Regions from separate parts of the Homo sapiens genome. Here regions 2, 3, 4, 5, 6 and 7 are each linked to region 1. The links come from fine-mapping of genetic effects on gene expression. A gene starts in region 1. Each other region holds a variant in brackets. All regions are shown on one strand. Distances are from middle to middle.

The links. PIP is the estimated chance that this variant, and not a neighbour inherited with it, causes the effect.
Region 2: its variant is the best candidate, but not a certain one, in a credible set for the expression of PEBP1 in whole blood (INTERVAL, PIP 0.56).
Region 3: its variant is the best candidate, but not a certain one, in a credible set for the expression of PEBP1 in whole blood (TOPMed, PIP 0.88).
Region 4: its variant is the best candidate, but not a certain one, in a credible set for the expression of PEBP1 in prefrontal cortex (CommonMind, PIP 0.82).
Region 5: its variant is the best candidate, but not a certain one, in a credible set for the expression of PEBP1 in blood mononuclear cells (TOPMed, PIP 0.56).
Region 6: its variant is the best candidate, but not a certain one, in a credible set for the expression of PEBP1 in monocytes after LPS (Quach 2016, PIP 0.51).
Region 7: its variant is the best candidate, but not a certain one, in a credible set for the expression of PEBP1 in whole blood (TOPMed, PIP 0.56).

What each region holds. Positions count from the first base shown.
Region 1 is chr12:118,133,812-118,137,878 of GRCh38, forward strand. PEBP1 (phosphatidylethanolamine binding protein 1) reads left to right here and starts at 2,313. Exons shown (of 4, transcript NM_002567.4): 1 at 2,313-2,533. The coding sequence starts at 2,399. It overlaps LOC101928274 (a long non-coding RNA gene), which reads right to left and starts at 2,181. Exons shown (of 4, transcript XR_945409.4): 1 at 2,046-2,181. RefSeq lists an enhancer at 2,108-2,608 and a silencer at 2,601-2,690.
Region 2 is chr12:118,172,820-118,176,886 of GRCh38, forward strand. All of the region lies in intron 16 of TAOK3 (TAO kinase 3), which reads right to left. Among named protein-coding and RNA genes, the nearest start is that of PEBP1, 39 kb to the left of the region's middle. The variant G/A (reference allele first, on the strand shown) is at 1,990.
Region 3 is chr12:118,202,276-118,206,342 of GRCh38, forward strand. The region is part of intron 11 of TAOK3 (TAO kinase 3); the gene reads right to left. Among named protein-coding and RNA genes, the nearest start is that of PEBP1, 68 kb to the left of the region's middle. The variant C/T (reference allele first, on the strand shown) is at 2,525.
Region 4 is chr12:118,196,385-118,200,451 of GRCh38, forward strand. TAOK3 (TAO kinase 3) reads right to left here. Exons shown (of 21, transcript NM_016281.4): 13 at 2,667-2,873. Among named protein-coding and RNA genes, the nearest start is that of PEBP1, 62 kb to the left of the region's middle. The variant C/T (reference allele first, on the strand shown) is at 2,005.
Region 5 is chr12:118,250,717-118,254,783 of GRCh38, forward strand. The region is part of intron 3 of TAOK3 (TAO kinase 3); the gene reads right to left. Among named protein-coding and RNA genes, the nearest start is that of PEBP1, 120 kb to the left of the region's middle. The variant G/A (reference allele first, on the strand shown) is at 2,030.
Region 6 is chr12:118,242,632-118,246,698 of GRCh38, forward strand. TAOK3 (TAO kinase 3) reads right to left here. Exons shown (of 21, transcript NM_016281.4): 4 at 2,263-2,334; 5 at 784-885. It also overlaps the pseudogene RPS2P5. Among named protein-coding and RNA genes, the nearest start is that of PEBP1, 110 kb to the left of the region's middle. The variant C/T (reference allele first, on the strand shown) is at 1,902.
Region 7 is chr12:118,111,953-118,116,019 of GRCh38, forward strand. It overlaps LOC101928274 (a long non-coding RNA gene), which reads right to left. Exons shown (of 4, transcript XR_945409.4): 4 at 2,393-4,067. Among named protein-coding and RNA genes, the nearest start is that of VSIG10, 10 kb to the left of the region's middle. The variant T/G (reference allele first, on the strand shown) is at 2,429.

The sequences.
Region 1 (4,067 bases):
GCATCTAGAGAAGTCATTAAAATGTTGAAGACTTTTTTTATTTTGCTTTATTTTTGTAGAGATAGGGTCTCACTCTGTCGCCCAGGCTGGAGTGCAGTGGCACAATCACGGCTCACTGCAGCCTCAAACTCCCAGGCTCAAGTGATCCTCCTGCCTCAGCCTTGGTAGTAGCTGTGACTACCGGCACATCCCTCCATACCGGGCTAATTTTTGTATTTTGTTGTAGAGATGGGGTTTCACCATGTTGTCCCGGCTGGTCTCAAACTCCTGGACTCAAGTGATCCTCCTGCCTCAGCCTCCCAAAGTGCTAGGATTAGAGGCCTCAGCAACCGCACCTGGCCTGACGACCTATTTTTGATATGACTATTTTATAATGGTAGGATATAATGCAATCTTTTGGTGAATAAACAACAAAATCATCTATACTCATATTATTTTTAAATAGGAAAGATATACCCTAAATGATTACTGACGTTTATAACAAAGTAGTGGGATAGAAGGGGATTTCTACTTCTTTGGGTTTTTTTCTTTGATTTTCTACAATGAACTCGTATTATTTCCTAGTAAGAATGTAAATCAAGAGACAACTTTTTATTCCATGGGAGGAATTATCAATGTCAAGAGTCAAAACAGATAAGAACTGTTAAATAGTGCTTATTGGCTGGGCGCGGTGGCTTATTGCCTGTAATCCCAGCAGTTTGGGAGGCTGAGGCAGGCGAATCATGAGGTCAGGAGTTCGAGACCAGCCTGGCCAACATGGTGAAACTCTGTCTCTACTAAAAATACAAAAATTAGCTGGGCGCGGTGCCGCCTGCCTGTAATCCCAGCTACTCGGGAGGCTGAGACAGGAGAATTGCTTGAACCCGGGAGGCAGAGGTTGCAGTGAGCTGAGATCACGCCACTGCACTCCAGCCTGGGCGACAGAGCAAGACTCCGTCTCAAAAAAAAAAAAAAAAAATAGTGCTTATCATATTCAGCAAAAAGCAAGCAGCTTGTGGTCACAGTAAGAGCAGTTTTGGTATGAATAAATATGGTTTAAAATTGTTTTTCAAAAAACAAACATAAAAAACCAAAACCCAAACATTTCTCAGGAATTTTGTGAGGACGAATTTTGTGTGTGGAGAAAACGGACAAATACATTTCCCCATATATTTAAATGCTCAAAAGTTCACTCAGGTGCTCTCACCAGGCAATTACTATGACAAGTGATCACGTGCGAAAATACAGAGAATCTGGCTCGTTTTAAAGTGCAGGAGAAAAGCAAGGCCTTACTGTTTCTGAATTTGCTGTGTGTGTGTGTGTGTGTGTGTGTGTGTGTGTGTGTGTGTATGAGAAGATGGGATCTGGCTCTGAAGCGCAGACAGGAGTGCAGTGGCAAGATCGTAGCTCACCGCGGCCTCAAACTCCTAGATTCAAGAAGTGATCGGCCGGGCGTGGTGGTTCACGCCTGTAATCCCAGCACTTTGAGAGGCCGAGGTCAGGAGATCAAGATCATCGTGGCTAACACGGTGAAATCCCGTCTCTACTAAAAATACAAAAAATTAGCCGGGCGTGGTGGCGGGCGCCTGTAGTCACAGCTACTCGGGAGGCTGAAGCAGGAGAATGGCGTGAACCCGGGAGGCGCAGCTTGCAGTGAGCCGAGATCACGCCACTGCACTCCAGCCTGGTCAACACAGAGAGACTCCGTCTCAAAAAAAAAAAAAAAAAAAAGTGATCCTCCCGCCCCAGCCTCCGGAGTAGCTAGGACTACAAGCATGCACCACTGTGTCTGGCTTTTTTCTTTTTTTCTTTTTTTTTAAGTTTTCTGTAAAGACGGGGTCTTGCTACCTTGTCCAGGATGGTCTCAAACTCCTGGGCTCAAGCGATCTTCCTGCTTTGGCCTCCCAAAGTGCTGGGAATACAGGCATGAGCCACCGCGACAGGCCATGTTGCTGAATTTGGAAAGTGGAGCAAAGAATCATGCAAAAAATTAAGAAAACCAAAACGCAACCAAGGCGAATTCAATTGCATTTTTTTTTCCCAGCGACACTTTCTGAGACACGAACCTCTCTCTTCGGCGAACCTATTCCAGGGCGCCCTTCATTTTCATTTCTTGAAACAACAGCCTTGCAGGCCGAGCCGCTGTTCCCGAGAACTCGGCAGCCACAGGGAGCAGGTTGCATGGACCCAGGAGCGCGAGAGGCCCTGCTCTGCCAGCTTCGGCCAATCAGAGGCCAGGGAGCGGTGGGCGTGACGTGGGGCGGTGCGCGGGGCTGGGCGGCGGCTGAGGCGCGTGCTCTCGCGTGGTCGCTGGGTCTGCGTCTTCCCGAGCCAGTGTGCTGAGCTCTCCGCGTCGCCTCTGTCGCCCGCGCCTGGCCTACCGCGGCACTCCCGGCTGCACGCTCTGCTTGGCCTCGCCATGCCGGTGGACCTCAGCAAGTGGTCCGGGCCCTTGAGCCTGCAAGAAGTGGACGAGCAGCCGCAGCACCCGCTGCATGTCACCTACGCCGGGGCGGCGGTGGACGAGCTGGGCAAAGTGCTGACGCCCACCCAGGTACACCGGGCGGCGGGCGTGCAGCGAGCGGCACGGCGCGGAGGCCTGTGCCGGCCTCCTGGGTGGGACCCAGCGGAGACAGGGCCAGGGGCGGTGGGGAGGTTCAGCCTGCGTGTGTCGAGGCCCCCCCAGGCCAGAGGTCCCGGGGTCCATGTCCCATGCCTGGGGGCCACCCCGAGCACCGGGAACCCGGCCTGTGGCGTGGCCAGGCAGGTTCGGCCTGCGGCAGAAATTCATTCACTTTTCCCGGGCTTCAGACCCAAGAGGGACCTAGGTTCGGAAACAGGCCGGATCCCCCTCTCCCCCCACAGGCCAGGGCGCTGGAGAGGGACGTCGCCGGGACAGAGTAGGCTGTGGCTGCCCGGACGCCCCCAGAGCTTCCCCTAGGGCCTCAGCATTTTAGGCCTGGTTTTGGAGGGCTGAAGCCTCACCCGAGAGCCTGTGACGCATTATGTAACTGGCGATGAGCGCGCCGGCCGATTTCTCCTTTGTTAAATGGGTCGAGAGCGTCCAGCCGGTACGCTGGAGGGCAACGGTTTAGTTTTGGTCTTTGACCTCCCACGCCCACGGCTGGGGCTGCCGAAAGTGAAGAAACTAGATTTGCAGACGCCACTGCTAGTTGGTTATGAAGCTCCGGGCAACAGCGTAAAATAAACTGCCCCGACCTTACATTGTTTTGGATGTTCACAGAATTTAATTTTTTTGGATGTTTAAATATGTAGTGCCCATCTAACACAGCCTCCCTTTTCCTGCTCCCTGCCCGCCTCTCATCACCTTGGCTTTCTCCTTTTCTTTGCACTTTGAAACGTACAGTTAATGCAGATTTCACTTCAGCAGGCTCCAGGTAACCTCCTGATCACCAAATCCAGAAACGCTGTGATTCCGGACAGACAATGTAAGGGTGTCGTTGAGAGGGGACTCAGTGCCAGGGTTGGAATCCCAGCCTTATCTGTTTCTCTTAATAGTGTGCTGGGATACTAGCCCCATGGTGTTGTTGGGACTGAAATAATATACAGCCTGGGCAACATAGCAAGACCCCAACTCTACAAAAAAAAATTGGCCAGGTGTGATGGTGTGAGCATGTAGTTCCCAGCTGCTCAGGAGGCTGAGGTGGGAGGATCGATCGATTGAGCGCTGGAGGTTGAGGCTACAGTGAGCCTTGATAGCGTCACTACACTCCGGCCTGAGTGACAGAAGGAGACCTGGTCTCAAATAAAATACATAACGTATATAAAACTCCAGCTCCTGGCTCTTACAGTCAATACAGGGTCATTGATTTTATTAAAAATCTATTCTGTTTTGTCTTTGGAGAGTCTGAGATCAAAGAAAGAGTATTGGTTTCTTCAGCATTTCTTGTTTTTGAGACAGAGTCTCACTCTGTCGCCCAGGCTGGAGTGCAGTGGGGTGATCTTGGCCGCCTGCAGCCTCTGCCTCCCCAGCTCAAGTGATCCTCCCACCTCAGCCTCCCGAGTAGCTGGGATTACAGATTCCCGCCACCATGCCCAGCTAATTTTTGTAGTTTTAGTAGAGGCAG
Region 2 (4,067 bases), 39 kb after region 1:
ATTAATTGAGTATTAAGTGAGAGGGACACTTGTGAGTTTCTGTATCTTTGGTTTCTCACTAACAGAAATTATTTGTTCACTCATTCACTCAACACAAACTTAACAAGCTCCTATCATGTGACAGGCAGTGTGCAAGATACAGGACACAAAGGTGAGTAAAAGGCCATGATAACTGCCACCGTGTGTCTTTATTATAGAATCAAAAATTAAAGAACCGCAGAAATGAACTAAAAATTACTGTGATCACTGCTTTGAAGAGGACGTACTTGGCCCTAGAAGAATTTAATAGAAAATATTTAATCTTGGTAGTAACTAAGAAAAATTATTCAGAGTTAACCAGCGGAAAAGGAAAGGGAAGAATACTCTCAGTAGAGAAAACAGCATGTGCAAAACCCTAGGGGTTGGAGAGGAAACATGGTGCCATCAAGGGCTGAAAGAAGGTCAGAGGGGCTGGTGTAACGTAATATGAGATAAGTCTGGCCAGGTAGGCAGGACCATTGAGGCTTTACAGGCCAATATAAGGACACTGATCTTTAGTATAGGAGAAATGGATTTCATGCATGTGAGAGTGTCATAATGAGATGCATTTGAAAATGATTACTCTGGCTGCCATGGGGAGAACAGAATGAAGGAGGCAAGAACATATGAAGATAGCTGGGAGGCTACTGGAAAGGTCCAGGCAAGAGAGATGGTAGTAGCTTGGACAAAGGAAGTAGTGACAAGACTGAGAGAAGCAGACAGATTCCAAAGAGAAGAGGTGACTATGCAAATGTCACTAGTTTGAATTTTAGGAAAAAACATTCTTCACTTGGGATTATAGAGTAAACAAACCATCTATATTTTCCAAGGACAAAATTCACAATTTTTCCAGAACATCTGAGCAAAGGAAACAAAGCAGTGAATCAGGACTGTTAAGATGTTAAACTGTGGTGAAAAGAAGAAGACTACTTGTTAAGAAAGTACAGTATACTCTTCTTTCTTCATTTGGTTAGCTACTCACTCAGCTAAAATCTCCTTTAGTTGCTAACACCTATTTTACTTAATGTTTTGTGATGCCGATATCATAGACTATTTTATCTCTTAGCCAAGAAGTCTCTGTAAATCAACTTTCAACTATCCTGTTCCAGTGAAGCTGTAAGTGAAATCTTAGAATCAACAAGAGAAAGTGTTGTTTTCAGAGTAAGCTGGAGTAAGCTGGGATCACAAGAGGAAGCCTGGGTCATTCATCTCTTCATGCCGTGATGTCACTACTTGGTTGGCCATTAACCACTAGACTGCAGACCCCGATTCAAATATAATCACAAAAATTTACTCCAAAATCAAGAATAAATTATTTCTGGACCATCTATCATTCTGTATTAGATACTCCTGTTATCTATCAAAAGTGGTGATAATGAAAAAATTTTTTTGTCATTCCAAGGACAATATCTGTAAGTATATAAATATCTAAATATATATGCCACTTTAAATAGTCTGAACTAAGCTTTACTTCAGAAAAAGTAATATTAGCTTTTGCATAGAATGGTCTAGTGGGGTTATCTCAAATTGGCTTCTGGCTTTTTTTTTTTTTTCATGAGCATGTTCAAAGACAGAAGTGTAGGCCTGTGGGCTTTGGCACTCAAGTCTGAGTATGGTGAGCCAAAAATTGACGTATGCTTGAGGACTGAGTGGGGACTCTTAAATGCTGTTCTGTGGGAAAATCTTCTAGAAGGTAGAGTTCATGAAATTTCCAAATATCTCAATGTTACAAAAACTCAAAATGGTGGCCATAGTCATAAAGTATGGCCTCCAGTGGATGAGTGGACGCGTGGAGTTAGAAATAAGGAAGGTATCTATTTATTTTATTTTACGATTTTTTTTTGAGACAGAGTCTTACTCTGTTGCCCAGGCTGGAGTGCAGTGGTGTGATCTCGGCTTACTGCAACCTCTGCCTCCTGTATTCAAGCAATTTGTCCTGCCTCAACCTCCTGAGTAGCTGGGATTACAGGC[G/A]CCCGCCATCAAGCTCAGCTAATTTTGTATTTTTATAGAGATGTCGTTTTACCATGTTGGCCAGGCTGGTCTTGAACTCCTGACCTCAGTTGATCCACCCACCTTGGCCTCCCAAAGTGCTGGGATTACAGGCATGAGCCACCGTGCCCAGCCAAGGAAGGTATTTAGAGTGGAGAAAAACCTCAAAATTTCTTAGGCTATCTCTGATCCAGCAACATCATATTATGATATAAAAATTAAGCTCAAGCCAATAACTCAGAGAAAATGGAAAGAATGTGAACCTTCTGAGTTGGGCTATTCTCTCTACACCCGGGTTTTCTAGACCTTATGGTGTCAGAGATTCTACCCATTCAGCCAGTGTAAATCAAATACAATTTTCTGTTAGGTCTAACAATTACCAGTGGCTTACCTGGGCAGGACAAAAAATCCCTAGGCCCACCCCAACCCCCTTGGTTTCACTTCCTAACTAAAAAAGAATTGGAGGAGAACCTTGCTGAGTCCTCTATTGCTAACCTACAAATCAGAATATGAGCTCAGGCCAGGCGTGGTGGCTCACGCCTGTAATCTCAGCACTTTGGGAGGCTGAGGTGAAGGATTACCTGAGGTCAGGAGTTCAAGACCAGCCTGGCTAACATGGTGAAACTCTGTTTCTACTAAAAATACAAAAAATTAGCTGGGCATGGTGGTGCACGCCTGTAATCTCGGCTACTTGGGAGGCTGAAGCAGGAGAGTTGCTTGAACCCGGGAGGTGGAGGTTGCAGTGAGCCGAGACTATGACATTGCACTCCAGCTTGGGCAACAAGAGCGAAACTCCATCTCAAAAGAAAAAAAAATAAAGAATATGAGCTCAAACACATGATTTTATATATACTAAAACAATGCGCCATATTGAATTTTATTAAACCTTAATACACTTAGTAAGTCTACAAATAAGAAATACTAAGGTTTATGAGAAGAAAAGTCCATGGAGCTGCAGACGATTCACCTGTAAGTACTGGTAAAAGGAGAACTGAAGAAATTTGAGCTTTCAGATCAAAGTGCAGTTCTTTGGGAAGAACTCCTAAGTCCACTAGTGGTCTTCAACCAAATATTCCAGAATCAATCATTCATTTACCAAATATTCATGTGTACAGGGCACAGGGATACAGTTGTGAGCAAACAAAAACATGGTCTGTGCTCTTATGATGCTTACCAGTTAGTAGAGTAAGTAGCTCAAATAATCATTAAACAAATGTATAATTAAAGGCTCTAGTTAGGAAACCAGAGACATCTGTCTTGGCTGAGGCAGTTAGAAAAGGCTTCCTTAGGAAAGTGACATTTAAGTTAAGATCCTAATAACCAATCCCGCATTGCACAAGGAGGAGAAGTAGGAATTAACCGAGCAAAATTGTGGTCAGGGAGGGCTTGGGGGTAGGGAGAACATCTTGGTGGAAGAAACAGTATGTGGAAAGACCTTGGGGAAGGGTGGAGCTTGATAAATTTGAGGAACTGAAAGGTGACCATGGTGGCTGGTGCAGCGAAGAGTGGGTTGAGGGTAGGGGCAGCATTAGTGTGAGATGTCACTGAACGAGTAGGCTAGGAGGGGACTGTGTAGGGACTTCTAGGATTTTGACTTGTCCTAAAAGCAATGGGAAGACAATGGATTTCAAAACTATGCAGTAGAATGACCAGATTTATGGTTTGAAAAGATCACTTTGACTGATGTGGAAAATACATAGGAAGAAGACAAGAATGGTTTAGAGTTATATCAATGGTTCTTGAAATGTGGTCCCTGAAGCAGTAGCAGCAGCGTCATCTGGGAGCTTGTTAGAAACACAAATTTTCAAACTCTACCCCAGAAAATCTAGGGATAGATTTTTAAAATCTGAAAATCAGTCAGATAAAAAAATAAATAAATAAATAAAATAAAATCTGAAAATCTGGGGGTGGGTTAGCAATCTGTTTTAATAGCATTTTAGGTAATTTTTTTTTTTTTGAGACAGAGTTTTGCTCTTGTCGCCCAGACTGGAGTGCAGTGGTGCGATCTCAGCTCACTGCAACCTCTGCCTCTTGGGTTCAGGTGATTCTCCTGCCTCAGC
Region 3 (4,067 bases), 68 kb after region 1:
CATAGGATGTTTCCTTATTTTGGCTATAGAGAAAAATGCTGTGATGAACATGGGGGCACAGGTATTTTTATGAGGTGCTGACTTCATTTTCTTCAGGTATATAACCAGCAGGGGGATTATTGGAACAAATTAACATTTTGTTTTTTGGGTTTTGGAGGAACCTCCATACTGTTTTCCATAATGGCAACCCCAATCTACATTCCCACCAACAGTATATAAGGATTCCCTTTTCTCTATACCCTTGCCACTTATTATCGCTTATCTTTTTTGATAATAGCCATTCTAACAGGTGTGAGGTGATACCTCATTGTGGTTTTCATTTCCATTTCCAATAATTAGTGAATGTTGAGTATCTTTTCATATAAGAATTCTTGAGGTTTACTTTATCATATAAGTAATAAAAAAATCACTAGAACTTTAAGAAGTAGGAGGTAGGCTTGTACCTTTTAAATCTGAAACTACATAATAAGCAGAAGCAATGCATAGTATAGTCTATTCTTTTTTTTTTTTTTTTTTTTTTTTGAGATGGAGTCTCGCTCTCTCACCCAAGCTGGAGTGCAGTGGTGCGATCTTGGCTCACTGCAACCTCCACCTCCTGGGTTCAGGTAATTCTCCTGACTCAGCCTCCCGAGTAGCTGGAATTACAGGCATGCACCACCATGCCTGGCTAATTTTTGTATTTTTAGTAGAGACGAGGTTTCACCATGTTGCCTTGGCTGGTCTTAAACTCCTGAGCTCAAGTGATCCACCCGCCTCAGCCTCCCAAAGTGTTGGGATTACAGGCGTGAGCCACCGCACCGCACCTTGTTCTATTCTTATTATAACTTGCCTCAATCCTCACCCCCATACACACTATCCCTTGAAAAACAGACTTGTGAATATTTTGTTCTCTATTTCTGTGGCCGTATAGTGTATGCTTGAAAATATGCCAGTTGTTCAATTTATCCAGAGGTCAAAATTCTGGCAACTTCATTTCCCCAATTAAAAAAAAGGGTCTCTGAGGAGTGAAAACAACTGCCCTAAAGTCCATAAATTAATCTTGATATAAACATCCCTCACTTTCAATATTATTAATGATTGTTACATAATCTGGTTTCCTAGTTTCTCAGCCCATAGCAGGTTAGACAGAGAATAAGAATGGAGAAGTAAGCCTGGCGCGGTGGCTCACGCCTATAATCCAACACTTTGGGAGGCTGAGGCGGGTGGATTACTGGAGATCAGGAGTTCAAGACCAGCCTGGCCAACATGGTGAAACCCTTTCTCTACTAAAAATACAAAATTAACTGGGCATGGTGACGTGCATCTGTAATCCCAGCTACTCGGGATGCTGAGGCAGCAGAATTGCTTGAACCTGGGAGGCAGAAGTTACGGTAAGCTGAGATCACACCATTGCACTCCAGCCTGGGCAAAAAGAGTGAAACTCCATCTCAAAAAAAAAAAAAAAAGAGTGAGGAGTAAAGGATTGAGGACTGGGAAAGGTAGGGTTACCACCTGTTGTAAAAAGAAGTAGCTTTTGTAAGTTCTCTGACAGCTTGAGAGTAGAGAAACAGAGAGAAATTTCATGACTAACAGACCTATCAACCAAACAAATAATAATAAAACAGGTTTGTGGGCTATTTTGCAAAAGGGCAAATGCCCCTTATATAGCCCCTTTTATGCCTCAAGAGTTCACGAAACACTGTTTCTGAGCCCTCAAGAAGTGACATTAGGCTGGGCGTGGTGGCTCACATCTGTAATCCCAGCACTTTGGAAGGCCGAGGCAGGCTGATCACTTGAGGTCAGGAGTTTGAGACTAGCCTGGCCAACATGGTGAAACCCCGTCTCTACTAAAAACACAAAAAATTAGCTGGGCATTGTGATGCATGCCTGTAATCCCAGCAAGCCAGGAGGCTGAGGCAGGAGAATGGCTTGAATCTGGGAGGCAGAGGTTGCAGTGAGCCGAGATTGCACCACAGCACTCTAGCCTGGGTGACAGAATGGAAAAAAAAAAAAAAAAGACATTATTTTTTAAAGGCAAAAGTTCAGTTATGTGGAAAATTTACTTATGTAAAATTGTAATTTGAAGACATTGGGAAAATGAGATATAATGTAGTGGGCCTTAGCTGATGAAATGAATTTAATTTCTTTATAATTTAAACAGATAAAAAATAATAGGGCCCTTGTGAGAAAACAATCTATATGTCTTGTGGTTCTGCATTCTGACTCTCTTAGAGGAATTGTGGTTTTTGCTGTTGCTTTTATAAAATACCTCTTCCTAGGTAGAGTCCTTTTTGAATAAAAAACATCATTCCCAGAAGCAAGTGTAGCCTGCACATTTCAAGGATGAGAAAGAAAGGAAGAAAGTATTATCATTTTCCTCCTCTAGTGCTTACAATTATAAAGAGCTAATCGGTTTTTAGTAAACTTAAAGCTATGACTTAACATCATAGAATTTTAGAACGGGAATGCCTCTTAGAAAACTTTCTGTTTCAAGGCTGGGCATGGTGGCTCATTCCTGTAATCCCGGAACTTTGGGAGGCCAAGG[C/T]GGGCAGATCACCTGAGACTAAGAGTTCAAGAGCTGCCTGGCCAACATGGCAAACCCCCATCTCTACTAAAAACACCAAAATTAGGGACCGGGCATGGTGGCTCACAACTGTAATCCCAGCACTTGGGGAGGCCGAGGCAGGGGGATCACATGAGGTCAGGAGTATCAAAGACCAGCTTGGCCAACATGATGAAACTCCGTCTCTACTAAAAATACAAAAATTAGCAGGGCATGTTGGCACGTGCCTGTAGTCCCAGCTACTCGGGAGGCTGAGGCAGGAGAATTGCTTGAACTTGGGAGAAGGAGGCTGAAGTGAGCCGAGATCATGCCACTGCACTCCAGCCTAGGTGATAGAGTGAGACTCTGTTTAAAAAAAATAAAAATAATAAATAAGAAGTAAAAATAAAAAATACCAAAATTAGCCAGGCGTGGTAGTGCCCGCCTATAGTCCCAGGTACTCGGGAGGCTGAGGCACGAGAATCAATTGAGTCTGGGAGACAGATCTTGCAATGAGCCGAGATCAGGCCACTGCACTCCAGCCTGGGTGACATAGAAAGACTCTGTCTCAAAAAAAAAAAAAGAAAGAAAATTTTTCTTTTTCAAAGTGAGAAAATTTGGGCCCTGAGAAGTTAGGTGATTTCCATAGCTAATTAGTAGAAGAGCTACGGCTGCAACTCAGGCTTTAAAAATTTTTTTCTGCCAGGGGTGTGGGTGGTGGTGGTTATTTTCTGGTGTCCTACTACCATAATTATCTTTCTAAAATACAGGTATGATCATTCATTGCAACAGATACTACATGTCATTCCCCCATTCCAACTTCTTTTTTTTTGAGACAAAGTCTTACTCTATCACCCAGGCTAGAGTGCAGTGGTGCAATCTCAGCTCGCTGCAAACTCTGCCTCCCAGGTTCAAGTGATTCTTGTGCCTCAGCCTCCCCAGTAGCTGGGATTACAGGCGTGCACCATTACGCCCAACTACTTTTTGTATTTTTAGTAGAGATGGGGTTTCACTATGTTGGCCAGGCTGGTCTCAAACTCCTGACCTTAGGTGATCCACCCACCTCAGCCTCCCAAAGTGCTGGGATTACAGGCATGAGCCACAGCTTTCAGACCCAATCTCTCTCTCTCTCTTTTTTTTTTTTTTGCCTTACTTGAAGCACTAGGAAGTAAAGGAACTGAACCCAAGCCTTCTTTGTGGTTACAGATCACTAAGTGACTAAGTTCTGGCCAGTGAGAGGTAGGCAGAAGTTCTCAAGGAAGGTTTTATTTTCTAGAATAAAAAGGCAAGACACATGAGGACAAGGTGTTTTACCCTTTGTTCTCTCTCCTTCTTCCTGCCTGGAATGAAAACTTGAGTCATGGCAATGTAGCAGCCATTTTATGACAAAGACAATAAAAGCTACATGCTAAGGATGGTGAAGTAGAAAGAGAGAAAGAGCTTGGGTCGATGACGACATTGTTGAGCTGCTTAGAGCTTTGGACTGCTTACGCCACTTCCTTTTCCAATGTCCTGGACTTCCTATTACATGAGATAAACTCTTACC
Region 4 (4,067 bases), 63 kb after region 1:
AAAATGGTAATCTGTTTCAGATCTGTTTTGACTACCAGTCAAATTAATTTGACTAATTTAAGATATGTCTGCTTGTGAGCCGAGATTGCACCACTGCACTCCAGCCTGGGCAACACAGTGAGACTCTGTCTCCAAAAATTAAAAAAAGAAAAGAAAAGATATATCTGCTTGATTATAACAATCAAGGGACAAAAGATTCCTTCTCCCATATTCATATATTTTGGTATTTATTAAGCACGTTCTTATTGTGTTGGGTACTCATTTAACTTTCATTTAACTATTATTTAACTTTCTCAAACTGTAAAGATAGCTAAGATTATTTAATCCTTTTGATCCATTATGTTCAATGAACCAGTAGAGTATGATATTTAATATTTGGTAATTAATTTATTCCCTGCCTTCTTTTTGGTTTTGTTGGTCTATTCATTCATTCCACAGTTATTTACTGAGCATCTATGCTGCGCCAGGCACTATTCTAGGTATTGGATTTGTTATTTGTCCAAAGTAAAATAAAACTAACAGAGGCAGATAGAACTATAAATTAGTTTCCTCATTCCTAAGTTTAATATACAAAATTTTCTGTTGAGAGTTAAAAATCCTATTTATGTTCCCAAGTGAAAAAGTGTTAGGAATTTGAGTAAACCATCCAATACAAACTTCATGAATAATTTTTATTTCTATTGTTTTTAAAGATAACATATTTTAAAGCTCAGGTACAAGAACTAAATGGATTTCATGAAAAGATACCATATCTTAAGTTTTCATATATATTCTATTTTTTGAGCTCACTTACATTTTAAAGGTAACTCATCCAAAGTTTTATTTGCAAATGTGTTTTGATTTTCTTCCATCATATTTCCTCTATATATTTCATGATAAAATAGGAATATATAACTTAAATTCTTCCTGACCTATATATTTTTTGTGGATCAAATGCAATTATCTTCTACTTCAGAATATAAATTTTATCTGTTCTACTTAAGTCATCACACATCAGGGAGAGAAAAGTATTGAAACACTCATATTATCACAAGGTAGGTCTATGACAGCATGCAAAAATAAAATTAAAAATCCCATTAGTTCTAGACCAGGGTTTTCTTTCTTGTTGATTATGCCAGTAGTGTCTTTCTTCTAATTCTGGTTGCCTATCTGAGAAGTCCTGGAGCAAAAAGATCCAACTGAATTCCTCTCTTTTGCCCCCTCTACTCATAGAGCCCCAGGGGTAATAGAAAGGAAAGTGCCAGACCTGTCAGCACTCATGATCACTCCCTCCAAAAAGACAGCCCAGCAAAACCTTCTTTTTTTTTTTTTTTTTTTTTTTGAGACGGAGTCTCACTGTGTTGCCCAAGCTGGAGTGCAGTGGCGCAATCCTGGCTCACTGCAAGCTCCGCCTCCCAGGTTCACGCCATTCTCCTGCCTCAGCCTCCCGAGTAGCTGGGACTACAGGTGCCTACCACCACACCCGGCTAATTTTTTGTATTTTTAGTAGAGACGGGGTTTCACCATGTTAGCCGGGATGGTCTCGATCTCCTGACCTCGTGATCCGCCCACCTCGGCCATTGCGCCTGGCCTCAAAACCTTCTTTTTTACTCTTCAAATACATGATCACTTGCCCATGTTGAAAGGACACCAGCTGGCAATGCTGATCTCTTGGTAGATTTCTGCATCTGTCTGACATCTTTGCTTTCCTCAAATTGCTTCCATGTCTTCCTGATAATCTGGGTCCTTTGCTGTCTCTCTGGTCCTGAGGCACTGTCCACATAGCACACCAGCCATAGCTTCTATGGCCTTCCCCTTTTCCTTGAACATACAAAGCTCTCTCTGTCTCAGTGCTCTTGTACTTGTTGCTTTCTGACTCATCCCCATCTCTTACCCCAGCTGGCTAGCTTCTATTTGTTTTTGAAATTTCTGCTTAAATGTCACCTCATCAGGTAGGCTTTTCTTACTCCCTGCTAGAGTAAGTCCTCCTTTTACCCGAGGCAAGTTTCTTTCTTTCTTCTTCTT[C/T]TTTTTTTTTTTTTTTTTTTTTGAGTCTCACTCTGTTGCCCAGGCTGGAGTGCAATGGCGCGATCTCGGCTCACTACAACCTCTGCCTCCTGGGTTCAAGCAATTCTCCTGCCTCAGCCTCTCGAGTAGCTGGGATTACAGGCATATGTCACCAGGCCCGGCTATTTTTTGTATTTTTAGTAAAGACGGGGTTTCGCCATGTTGGCCAGGCTGGTCTCAAACTCCTGACCTCAAGTGATCCACCCGCCTAGGCCTCCCAAAGGGCTGGGATTACAGATGTGAGCCACCACGCCCAGCCAAGAAACATACTTTTGAAAGAGCATACTTCTAAAAGGGCACAACCAACAGGTACACTCAGGAAGACTTGAAGGTCTACAGTATTAAGATTATTGGTTTAGAGAAGGACTTATCAAATTCTTCAACTTATTTATTGATGATGATGGACATCAGAGTAATGAGAGAGGGAGATGAAGAAATAGGCACAGATGTAGCCTGTGTAGTCCTTTGTTACTTTTTGACTGTAAGAAAACTGTCACATGCCAGGTTTAGTACCACACTGCAGTTGCAAAAAGGTAACTGAAACATCTGGAAGCTAAGTGACTTGAACTGGATTCGCTATGATTGACAAAGCTCACCTCTGTGGAGGGTACCAAGAAACCTACTTTCTTATGCACGACGGAGGAGCTGGAATTGATTGTGCTTTCGTCATCGTGCATCATGACAAGTTCGGAACTGCTCTCGTCCATGACTTCCTGCATGCTGTTCACACTGCTGCTCTGGCTGCCTGTGCTCACGGACATGCTTGGAATGGAATGGTTGCTGCCCAGGCTGTCCATTTCCCTGTTCAGGCTGGTTCCATGTTCACTGTCCTGTAAAAATGGGGCACTGAGGTTAGAAAAAAAGACTGAAGATAAAGAGTCAATCCATTGACAAAAGTGTCAAGCACACTCAATTTTGCAGTGTCAAGTTGCTTTTCTGCCAATCTGCAAAGACAAACTTTTTATGTACTGGCTCCACTACTCCTCCACCATTTTCATACATCTCATATTTGCTTCCTATGCCTTCCCCAGGGGCCATTCTGGACGTGGGTCATAAGGCTCCAAATGCTGCCATCCCAGGGCTTTCCCCTGTCATACACACTATCATATTATCGTGTTGCTATTCAGTAAGCAAAATCAAGCCAGGTTTGTAAGGGACCTTCTGGAACATCAAGGAGCTAGAGGAAGACTGCTGGCCACTAAACAGGTGAGCTCTAGGATATCTTCAAATACAGCAGTGGTCACTTGAAAAAGTAGAGTGGAAAGAGTTTTCAGATATTTGACAAGCAATATGCTCCCTCTGCAAGTCATTATTGAGTAACTTCATATCTAAGCAGAAATATTAATTCTACTTTCCTGGACAGGTAATTAAAGTCTGCCTCCCTCAAGCGATTCTATCATGCTTATCTCTGTAATCTTATTATATATATCTGTTAAATAATACTGGTATTCATCATTACTGGCCCAAAGACTACTATTTGAAAAGTGGTAAAATAATCAGAACATATAATTTATCCATCACAGTGGGATATCTTTTGATATAAGATTGAATAATAAAATTAAATCCATTTAGCTACAAATAAACCTTGTTCTCAAAAAACCATATGGTACACATATAACTTTAATAAACTGTTACTTAGCCATGGCAATATAAAAAATTACTGGGTAATATAAAATGGAAGATAATACATTATTTTTAACAGACTTATTTTCCCAATTAAAGGGGATCATTTCTATATATGCAATCAAGAAATTTTATAGTTCAATGCAACTTTCCGAGCTTCATTTTTAAAATTATTGATAAAATACTTTTATGTTTATTTTATTTTCTGTTAAAAAGCTAAAATACTCCTGTTCTTGTTATGTCTACGTTCTGAAATCCTGCCTCTTTAACTATATCCCTTTCTTCTATCTTCGGTGCCTCTGACTCTGCCCTGGCTCCATCTCTACTGCATTTAAAGATGAAGAAGCCTGCCTTATATTTATGGATCTCTCTACATGCTGCCCACTCTTACTTTTCCTTCT
Region 5 (4,067 bases), 120 kb after region 1:
AAAACAATAAAAGACAAAATGTAAAACTGCAATTCTGATATGTGCCACAAAGAAGGGTATTTGTTACTTTGAGAACCAACAACGGTGGATGTGACTTAGGGAGGTCAGGAAAGCCTTCCCTGAAGAAATGAGGTTTAGGCTGAGAGCTAAATGATGAACAGGAGTTAAGAAGGTGAAAATAGAAGGGAGAAATATTCGAGAGAGAACAGTTTACGCAAGATTCCAGGAAGGATGATCAGAAGAAAGGAATCAGAGCTACAGCAATGAGAATGAGAGAGAAGATAGCTCAAGTAGAGATAGGGACCATGAAGGACCTTGTGGGCTGGCTATAGTAGGGATTTTGATCTTGGCCTAAGAACGAGGGAGAGCCCCTAAAGGCTTTATAGGGAAAGGGGATGGGATGAGATTTACATTTCTTTTTTCAAGCTCATCGAGGTATGCACAACAGACTGAAGAGACCAAAGCAGGCAATCATAGTTGTCCAAATAAGAGATAGCAGAGTCTTCCTGGTAATAATGGTACAAGTAACAAAAGGAAAAATCTATTAGCACGGAGTAAGAAGCAACTTATATAAATACTACTTTGGCCAACAGGAAAATCCATTTTTAAGGTACTGCCCATGTGACCACTACAGATAAAAGGTTAAAGCTTTTCGTAAGTTCTATAGTACAGTGTCAGTTAATTCCCTTTTAATCTGTTTTTTAGTGCTTTATGGGTGTACATAGGCCTGTACTTTTCACATTTATATACAGGCCCTATAGAGTTAATGATTACGTTTATCAATGCCACTCTGCTACCTGTATCATTTCTCTAGTCTATCATCAGCAACAAATAATATATATTTAGTGCCTACTGTAAATGAGATCGTGCCAGCCTTTAGAGTTGTAAACAAATATTAGAAATAGTCCTCACCTTCAAAAACGCACACACTCTAGCTAAATAGACAGGGCTTAGCCCAAAAAGCAAATAAACCACTAGGTCTTCTGCAGCCTAGTACAACGTAGGTCTCATTTTGCCACTATTATAAATGGCTTTTAGTAAGTTTCAAAGCATGCTTGGTTTATTGTAGTCATTCTGAAACATTAGCACTTTAAGAAGGGTTTGGCTGCTTTTTTTTTTTTTTGAGACAGAGTCTCACTCTGTCCCCCAGGCTGGAGTGCAGTGGCACAATCTCAGCTCACTGCAAGCTCCACCTCCCGGGTTCATGCCATTCTCCTGCCTCAGCCTCCCCAGTAGCTGGGACTACAGGCGCCCGCCACCATGCCTGGCTAATTTTTTGTATTTTTAGTAGAGATGGGGTTTCACCATGTTAGCCAGGATGGTCTCGATCTCCTGACCTCGTGATCCACCCGCCTCGGCCTCCCAAGTGCTGGGACTACAGGCATGAGCCACTGCACCCGGCCTTGGCTGCTTTTTAAATGAGAAGAGTCAAATAGAGACTGACTCTTGCCAGGAGAGATTCTGAGAAGATGAATTAGATTTAAAATAATAGAAGAAAAGAAAGCAAAGATGACAGAAGAATACATCTGTAAGCAAAACAAACAGGTCACAAATGAATATATACAGATGTTTCCATTTTTAAAAAGTTCAAAACTAAGCAAAACCAATTTACATTTTTAGGAGTACAGATTAAGTGGGTTATAACTATAAAGAAAAGTAAGAAAATAATCACCATAAAAATCAGAATGGTGGATACTCTTAAGGGGACGGAGAGGGTTCTGACTGAGGGAGACATAAAGAGGGGCTTTTGGGATGCTGGCAGTATTGTATTTCTTGATCTGGGTGGTGTTTTTACACAGAGATTTACCTTTTAATTCTTTCTGAAGTTCTATATTAAAATAGATATGTATATTGTATATACTTCTTTATGTATACTTATAATAAAAACGCTTTGTTAACAAGAGGACCTGAGACTAAAGAAGACAGAACTTTGGGCCTTAAATGATATTCTGACTACACACTAACAAGGGAGTGTTAACTAAGAAATTAGCACCCTTTTTTCTTTTCTTTTTTTTTTTTTTGAGACAGA[G/A]TCTCACTCTGTCCCCCAGGCTGGAGTGCAGTGGCACAATCTTGGCTCACTGCAAGCTCTGCCTCCCGAGTTCACGCCATTCTCCTGCCTCAGCCTCCCGAGTAGCTAAGTAGCTAAGTACAGGCGTCCACCACCATGTCCGGCTAAGTTTTTCTATTTTTCAGTAGAGACGGGGTTTCTCCGTGTTAGCCAGGATAGTCTCGAACTCTTGACCTCGTGATCCGCCTGCCTCAGCCTCCTAAAGTGCTGGGATTACAGGCGTGAGCCACTGCGCCCAGCCGAAATTAGCACCCTTTTCAGCCAGAAAAATCTTTTATTGTATTTAATGACAAAATATACTTCAGTGGGAGCCAAGTTATTGATGGTAGTGAGGGAAGCAGAAGTAATGGTAGGGCTGAGCATAGACGCAGTGGTTGAGAAACAGTTTAGAGAAAATCCAGGCTGAAGATTTGGCTAGAAGCAAAAGGACAAAGTAAAGATGCAATTCATAAAATAATCTCATTTGGAAGGACAACTAAAGATAAGCCCTATCCAGATGGCAGAACATAAAGGACCACTTAAAATGGAAGAGTCAGTAATGTTTGATTACAAAGAAATTATTTGATTACAAGTTTGGAGAAGTAGGTAATAATTAGTACTTAATTTATTATTTGCTTTAATGGACTATTATGCTTAAGGAAGTATTTGTTAAATTAAATAACTATATTTTGGCCTGGCACGGTGGCTCACGCCTGTAATCCCAGCACTTTGGGGAGGCCGAGACGGGTAGATCACCTGAAGTCAGGAGTTTAAGACCAGCCTGGCCAACACAGTAAAACCCCATCTCTACAAAAATACAAAAATTAGCCTGGCATGATGGCAGGTGTCTGTAATCCCAGCTACTCAGGAGGCTGAGGCGGGAGAATTGCTTGAACCCGGGAGGTGGAGGTTGTAGTGAGCCGAGATTGTGCCACTGCACTCCAGCCTGGGCGACAGAGCAAGACTGTCTTAAAACAAACAAACAAACAAACAAAAAAAAAAAAACAGGGCCCGGTGCAGTGGCTCACGCCTGTAATCCCACCACTTTGGGAGGCCGAGGTGGTCAGATCACGAGGTCAGTTCAAGACCAGCCTGGCCAACATGGTGAAACCCGGTCTCTACTAAAAATACAAAAATTAGCTGAGCGTGGTGGCACATGCCTGTAATCCCAGCTATGTGGAAGGCTGACGCAGGAGAATTGCTTGAACTGGGATCCAGGAGGCGGAGGTTGCAGTGAGCCAAGATCGTGCCACTGTACTCCAGCCTGGGCTACAGAGCGAGGCTCTGTCTCAAAAAACAAACAAAAGAACAAACAAACTGTATTTTATGTAATGAATTTCAGGTGAATAAGCTGTGTTAAAATTTTGGCTATTTGTTTTTCTCATCAGGAGATAGTCACATTCTTGGAACTAAAACTGATTCTAGGGGTACAGCCTTGTACCCCTTAAACGAAAATACTGACTTGACATGATTGCCACTAAAAATCACTGTCAGTCCCTTTCTCTGAATAGTTGTCTGTTCATCTGTTTATCTGTCTATCCACCATCCATCCATCCATCCATCCATCCATCCACCCATCCATTATTTATCAAATTCCTACTACTGTCAGGCATATACTAGTTCTTGAGTCTGTAACGATGAACAAGATAGACATAAACCCTGTCCTCATGACACTTGTTATTTAGGGAAAAAGACATATATAAAGCAAAAAATCGTATACGTAATTGTTTTATTACAACTGTGATAAATGCAACAAAATATAAGAACAAGATGTTATGAAATCATAAAGTATTGATTTAGGGGTGGAGTCTTGAACAGTAAAGGGTATCTTGCAAAAGTAATACTTAAGGTAAAACTTGTAGGATGAACGGACAGGCATGGGGATGTAATGTGCAGAGTTTTCTAGGTGGGGTAATAGCACATATAAGGCTCTGAGGCAGGAAAGAGCTTAGCATACAGTGGAAATGCACAAAGCTCAACTTCAAGCTCTTAACTTTTTTTTTTTATTTTTTGAGACGGA
Region 6 (4,067 bases), 110 kb after region 1:
GGTGGATCACCTGAGGTCAGGAGTTGGAGACCAGCGTGGCCAACATGGTGAACCCTATCTCTACTAAAAATACAAAAAATTAGCTGGGTGTGGTGGCATGTGCCTGTAGTCCCAGCTACTCAGGAGGCTGAGGTTCAAGAATCACTTGAACCCAGGAGGCAGAGGTTGTAGTCAGCTGAGATCGCACCACTGCACTCCAGCCTGGGCAACAAGAGTGAATCTGTCTCCAAACAAACAAACAAACAAACAAAATATATATATATATATGAGTGTGTGTGTGTCTGTGTGTGTGTGCATGTGTATATATATTTATATATATATATCACAATAAGATGACAGAGTGGAACAAAAGTCTCTTATTTTAATCATATGGTGGCCCCTGTTTGGTAAAAATCACATAGCAATTAAAACATCAAGAACAATTCCAAATATGGGGGGAACTGGAGTGGAGGATGAGAAATGACAAAGATAAAAATTCTAGGATGAGAATATAAGGCTGTGCCTTTTACTTTTACAAACAAATAATTATAAAATGATGTCAACTTTTCACCATCTCTTTCTGAGTGTTTATAGAATGGAATTTCTAATAGGCTAGATATCATTTAATCTTACAGAATATATACCAAGTGACACACCAAAGTATTAACAAATGTTAAATACTGATAACAAAAGTTAAATGGAACAGAAATGAAATTAGTAATTTTACAGATCAAATAGATAATAGAAAAAAAAGAAAAAGAAAAAAATGTAATAGTAAAAGATAATAGAGGTCCTTCGACTTACCCAAGCAGTGTGTTCTTTCAAGTAACAGCCTTTGTACTCAATAGTATTAGGATGCTTCAATTGTCGTAAAAATTTAACTTCCTTAAGAATATCTTGCCATTTCTATTGAAGTCAGAAAAGGAACATTTTAATTTAATTTTTGATAGGAAAATAGTATTTCCTATCAAGTATACGTATATATCATTTATATTATTGTAAATGGACATAAAGTAAATGTTTAATAAATGAAGAAGCTATTTAAACATGCTATTTCTTTCTCTCTCTCTTTTTGTTTTTAATTGAGACAGAGTCTTGCTCTATCGCCCAGGCTGGACTGCAGTGGCACGATCTCGGCTCACTGCAACCTCTGCTGCCCGGTTCAAGGTTCAAGTGATTCTCGTGCCTCCCAAGTAGCTGGGACTACAGGCGTGCACCACCAGACCAAACTAATTTTTTTGTATTTTTAGTAGAGACGAGGTTTCTCCGTGTTGGCCAGGCTGGTCTCGAACTCCTGACCTCAGGTGATCCGCCCACCTTGGCCTCCCAAAGTGCTGGGATCACAGGCGTGAGACACTGTGCCCGGCCTAAACATGCCATTTCTTTAGTTTGAATACATGTAAACACAAATCTATCACCAAATACATTACAAAAAAGCCATTACACATACCCATGTTCTGGTCTGCAAAATAGTTTTTTTCCTTTTCAGGCACCCAGGCTAGAGTACAGTGTTGCAGTCACAGCTCACTGAAGCCTCCACATCCCAGGCTCAAGCAATCTTCCCACTTGAGCCTCCCGAGTGGCTGGACTACAGGCACACACCACCACACCCAGCTAGTTTGTTTGATGTTTTGTAGAGGTGGGGTCTCACCATATTGCCCAGGCTTGTCTTGAGCTCCTGGGCTCAAGCGATCCTCCAGCCTTGGCTTCCCAAAGTGCTGGGATTACAGGCCTAAGCCACCTCATCCAGCCTGCAAAATAGTTAATTGAGCTAGAACATTAGCCTTTTTAAAAATAATTATGAATGTTCACACATTTGTATGAAAAACTTCAGGAACTTTTATTATATGCTCCACAAGAAGGAAAAAAAAATTGTTCTAAAAAAAAGTTTAAAGAATTTTGTTAATTTCTTTTTTCTTTTT[C/T]TTTTTTTTTTTTTGAGACAGAGCCTCGCTCTGTCACCCAGGCTGGAGTGCAGCGGCGTGATCTCGGCTCACTGCAAGCTCCGCCTCCCGGGTTCACGCCATTCTCCTGCCTCAGTCTCCTGAGTAGCTGGGACTACAGGCGCCCGCCACCACGCCCGGCTAATTTTTTGTATTTTTAGTAGAGATGGGGTTTCATCATGTTAGCCAGGATGGTCTCAATCTCCCGACCTCGTGAGCCGCCCACCTCGGCCTCGCAAAGTGCTGGGATTACAGGCGTGAACCACCGCGCCCGGCCAGAATTTTGTTAATTTCATACTAACTTGTTTATTTCAGTTTAGGTATACAACTGTCTCTATCTCACCTCATGGGTCTGCTTCCCACTATAGGACATCTTCTTAATTGCCACCACCTCACTGGTGTGAGCATTTGTAGCCTGTGTTAAGAGGGTAGAAGAAAAAGAAAAAGAATTAGTGATGTTTCAGCCAATTTAACTTAAATATTTGACTAGAGACTATTTATTTATATATTTATTTATTGACAGTCTCATTCTGTCGCTCAGGCTGGAGTGCAGCTCACTGCAACCTCTACCTCTTGGGTTCAAGCGATTCTCCTGTTTCAGCCTCCCAAGCAGCAGGGATTACAGGCACGCACCACCATGCCACGCTAATGTTTTTTGTATTTTTAGTAGAAATGGGGTTCCACCATGTTGACCAGGCTGGTCTTAAACTCCTGACTTCAAATGATCCGCCCGCCTCGGCCTCCCAAAGTGCTGAGATTACAGGTGTTTTATTTTATTTTTGGAGAAAGAATCGAGCTGTGTTGCTCATGCTGGAGTGCACTGGGGCACGATCTTGGCTCACTGTAGCCTCTGCCTCCCGGGTTCAAGCTATTCTCCTGCTTCAGCCTCTCAAGTAACTGCGGATTATAGGCACCCACCACCACACCTGGCTAATTTTTATATTTTTAGTAGAGATGGGGTTTCACCATTTTGGCCAGGCTGGTCTCAAACTCCTGACCTCACGTGATCTGCCCGCCTCAGCCTCCCAAAGTGCTGGGATTACAGACGTTAGCCACCGTGCCTGGCCTCATATTATATTTAAAATAATATCTCCATACTGCAGTATCACAGTTCAAAGATGCTTCACTTTTTGATAGGCTAAATAGACATCTCCACTCCCATTTTAATGTATAGTTTATCTATATTCTTTTCTGGATACATGTAAAGATTGTAATATAAAAAATGATTAGGGTTTAATATATCAAACCAAACAAAAAATGTCATATTCCCAAATGACCCATTCTGGCTTCACCTTGTAAACTGTCCATCAATGGAGAACCAGTTAAATAAATAAATATGATATGACCATATAATAAAATAACCACTTAAGGAATGAGGTAATCTATGTGCAATGCAATATGAAAAGATGTTAAAAATGTTTTGGTCAAAAACAAGCTATAAAGTAGAATCCAATTTTTGCAAAATAGTAATAATGTGAGTATACGTGTAGAAAAAATTATAAAAGAATTGCTTCTTTTCCGAGAAAACAACAAATGGCGGATGACGCCGGTGCAGCGGGGGGGCACGGAGGCCCTGGTGGCCCTGGGATGGGGAACCGCGGTGGCTTCCGCGGAGGTTTCGGCAGTGGCATCCGGGGCCGGGGTCGCGGCCGTGGACGGGGCCGGGGCCGAGGCCGCGGAGCTCGCGGAGGCAAGGCCGAGGATAAGGAGTGGATGCCCGTCACCAAGTTGGGCCGCTTGGTCAAGGACATGAAGATCAAGTCCCTGGAGGAGATCTATCTCTTCTCCCTGCCCATTAAGGAATCAGAGATCATTGATTTCTTCCTGGGGGCCTCTCTCAAGGATGAGGTTTTGAAGATTATGCCAGTGCAGAAGCAGACCCGTGCCAGCCAGCGCACCAGGTTCAAGGCGTTTGTTGCTATCGGGGACTACAATGGCCACGTCGGTCTGGGTGTTAAGTGCTCCAAGGAGGTGGCCACCGCCATCCGTGGGGCCATCATCCTGGCCAAGCTCTCCATTGTCCCCGTGCGCAGAGGCTACTGGGGGAACAAGATCGGCAAGCCCCACACTGTCCCTTGCAAGGTGACAGGCCGCTGCGGCTCTGTGCTGGTGCGCCTCATCCCTGCACCCAGGGGCACTGGCATCGTC
Region 7 (4,067 bases), 22 kb before region 1:
TACTGTGTTTTTCTAGAATTTGTATGGCTTATTTTATTTTATTTTTTGTAATTTGAGACAGAGGAGTCTGTTGCCAGGCTGGAGTGCAGTGCACAATTTCGGCTCACTACAACTTCCGCCTTCTGGGTTCAAGCGAGTCTCCTGCCTCAGCCTCCCAAGTAGCTGGGACTACAGGCACATGCCACCATGCCCAGATAATTTTTGTATTTTTAGTAGAGACAGGGTTTCACCATGTTGGCCAGAATGGTCTCGATCTCTTGACCTCATGATCTGCCCGCCTCAGCCTCCCAAAGTGCTGGGATTACAGGCGTGAGCCACTGCGCCCGGCCATATGGCTTAAGTTTTATCATTAGGTATGTAATCCTATATAAAATTTTTTTTTTTTGAGATGGAGTTTCACTCTTGTTGCCCAGGCTGGAGCGCAGTGGCGTGATCTCCGCTCACTGCAACCTCCGCCTCCTGGGTTGAAGTGATTCTCCTGCCTCAGCCTCCTGAGTAGCTGGGATTACAGGCATACGCCACCACCCCTGGCTAATTTTTTTTTTTTTTTTTTGAGACGGAGTCTTGCTCTGTCGCCCAGGCCGGAGTGCAATGGCGCGATCTCGGCTCACTGCAACCTCCGCCTCCTAGGTTCAAGTGATTCTCCTGCCTTAGCCTCCCAAGTAGCTGGGATTACAGGCACCCACCACACCCAGCTAATTTTTGTATTTTTAGTAGAGACGAGGTTTCACCATGTTGGCCAGGCTAGTCTCAAACTCCTGACCTCAGGTGATCCGCCTGCCTTGGCCTCCCAAAGTGCTGGGATTACAGGCGTGAGCCACCGCACCCAGCCTAATTTTGTATTTTTAATAGAGATGGGGTTTCACCATGTTGGTCAGGCTGGTCTCAAACTCTTGAACTCAGGTGATCCACCTGCCTCAGTCTCCCAAAGTGCTGGGATTACAGTCATGAGCCGCCACACCTGGCCAAATTATTTTTTTTTGTATGGTGTTATGGTCAGAATATTTGTGTCCCCTCAAAACTCATATGTTGAAATTCAAATCCCTAAGTTAATGGTATTAGCTAGAGGGGCCTTTGGAAGGGGATAAGGTCATGAGTGTGGAACCCTCATGAATGGGATTAGTGCCCTTATGAAAGACACCCAAAGGAGCTTGTTCACTTCTTCCACCATGTGAAGATACAGTGAAAAGACAGCCATCTATGAACCAGAGAGTGGACCCCCACCAGACACCAAGTTTGCCAGCACCTTGATCTTGGACTTCCCAGCCTCCCAAACTGTAAGAAATACATTTATGTTGTTCATAAGCCAATAAATAAATAGATTATTAAAAATTTAAAAATTAGCCAGGCATAGTGGTGCATGCTTGTAGCTCTGACTACTCTGGAAGCTGAATCAGGAGGCTCACTTGAGCCCAGGAGTTCAAGACTTCAGTGAGCCATGATCATACTACCACACTCCAGCCTAGGCAATAGAGTGAGATCCTGTCTCAAAAGACAAAAAACAGTAAGTGAAGCAAACAAACAAGAAAAAATCCAAGCAATTTATAGTGAAATTCTCCTTGAAAGAAAGCCTTTTGGCTGGGCGCGGTGGCTCACACCTGTAATCCCAGCACTTTGGGAGGCTATGGTGGGAGGATCACCTGAGGTCCAGGAGTTCGAGACCAGCCTGGCCAACATGGTGAAACGCTGTCTCTACTAAAAATACAAAAAAATTAGCTGGGCGTGGTGGCGGGTGCCTGTAATCCCAGCTACTCGGGAGGGTGAGGCAGGAGAATCACTTCAACCTGAGAGCCGGAGGTTGCAGTGAGCCAAGAATGCATCATTGTGCTCCAGCCTGGGTGACAAGAGTGAAACTCTGTCTCAAAAAAAAGAAAAAAAAAATAGAGAAAGAAACCCTTTTGTCCACCCCAAACCCCTAGTCTTCTTCCCCAGTGACGAGCTGTCTCACCAACTTCCATAGACTACAGTCTTTACTGTTTACCTAATATGCCCCTGTCGGAATATCATACAGCCATTAACACTTGTGTTTTCCAGTTTTTTTTTTTTTTAGAGAGCTGGGGTCTCACTCTGTTGCCTAGGCTGGAGTGCCACGGCACACTTATCAAACTCCTGGGCTCAAATGATCTTCCCACGTCAGCCTCCTGAGTAGTTGAGACTACAGACCCTCACCACCATGCCTGGCCAATTTTTAAAATTTGTAGAGATGGAGTCTCAGTATGTTGCCCAGGCTGGTCTCAAACTCCTGGGTCAAGCAATAATCTTACCTCAGCCTCCCAAAGTGTTGGGATTACAGGCATGAGCCACTGCGCCTGGCAATTTGTATTTTTAAAGTTTATGTAACAATAAAGATCCCTCTATTGTGATTATCCAGATTTGTAACATTCAGTAAAAGTTTTTTTGATAGCAGCTTTATTTTTATTTTATTTTA[T/G]TTTGAGACAGAGTCTTCCTTCGTAGCCCAGGCTGGAGTGCAGTGGCTCAATCTTGGCTTACTGCAATCTCCGCTTCCCAGGTTCAAGTGATTCTCCTGCCTCAGCCTCCCGAGTACCTGGGATTACAGGTGCTCAACACCACACCCGGCTAATTTTTGTATTTTTTAATTAGAGATGGGGTTTTACCATATTGGCCAGGCTGGTCTTGAACTCCTGACCTCAGGTGATCCACCTGCCTTGGCCTCCCAAAGTGCTGGGATTACAGGCATGAGCCACCACCCTCTGCTGATAACAGCTTTATTGAGATATAATTCATCCCATAGAACTCTCTCAGTTAAAGTCTACAATTCAATGGCTTTTAGCATAGTCACAAGGTTGTACAACCATAACTACCATCAATTTTAGATTTTCATCACTCCAGAAAGACACCCCATACCCTTTAGCTATCACCTTGCTATGGTTTGAATGTGTCCTCCAAAAGTTCATGTGTTGGAAACTCAGTCCCTCTACCCTCAAGAATGGATTAGTGTTGCCATCGTGGGAGTGGTTTTGTTATAAAAGCAAGCGCTCTCTGGCTCTCTTGCTCTTGTCCTCTTGCCATGTGATGCCCTCTGTTATGTTATGATACAGCAAGAAGGTCCTCACCAGATGCTTGTTCCATGCTCTTGGACTTCTCAGTCTCCAGAACCATGTACTAAATATACTTTTTTTCTTTATAAATTACCCTACCCAGTCTGTGGTATATATGCAACAGAAAACAGGCTAAGACACACTCACAATTTCCCCACCCCCTCCAACCCCCAGCAATCATGAATCTACTTTCTGTCTCTATGGTTTTGCCTATTCCAGACATTTCATGTTAACAGAAGCAAGCAATATATGTTGTGACTGGCTTCTTTCACTTAACGCAATGTTCTCAAGGTTCATCTACATTGTAGCTTGTATCAATACTTCATTTCATTTTATGGCCAAATTATATTCTGTTGTATGGAGATGTTAGTAGCAGTGAATCCATACGGGCCTGCAGCAACCTGAATCCTTGCCTCCTCAGAAGAGAGAATTCAACCAAGGGGCATAAGACAGAGTAAGAAACCAAGGCAAGTTTCACAGCAGGAGTGAAAGTTTATTAAAAAGTTTTAGCTGGGCATGGTGGCTCACGCCTGTAATCCCAGCACTTTGGGAGGTGGGCAGAACACCTGAGGTCCGGAGTTCGAGACCAGCCTGACCAACATGGAGAAACCCTGTCTCTACTAAAAATATAAAATTAGCCGGGCATGATGGCACATGCCTATAATCCCAGCTACTCGGGAGGCTGAGGCAGGAGAATGGCTTGAACCTGGGAGGTGGAGGTTGCTGTGAGCTGAGATCGCGCCATTGCACTCCAGCCTGAGCAACAAGAGCGAAACTCCGTCTCAAAAAAAAAAAAAAAAAAGTTTTAGAACAGGAATGCAAGGAAATAAAGTACACGTGGAAGAGGGCCAGTAGGGACCTTGAGAGATTCAAGTGCATGGTTTGACCTTTGACTTGTGGTTTTATATGTTGGCAGTCTGCATGTACAATGGCCTGCCAGCACTTGGGAGGGGCTGCATGTGAGTGTGTTTACTGAAGCTATATGTGTGCTCACTTGAGGTGTTCTTC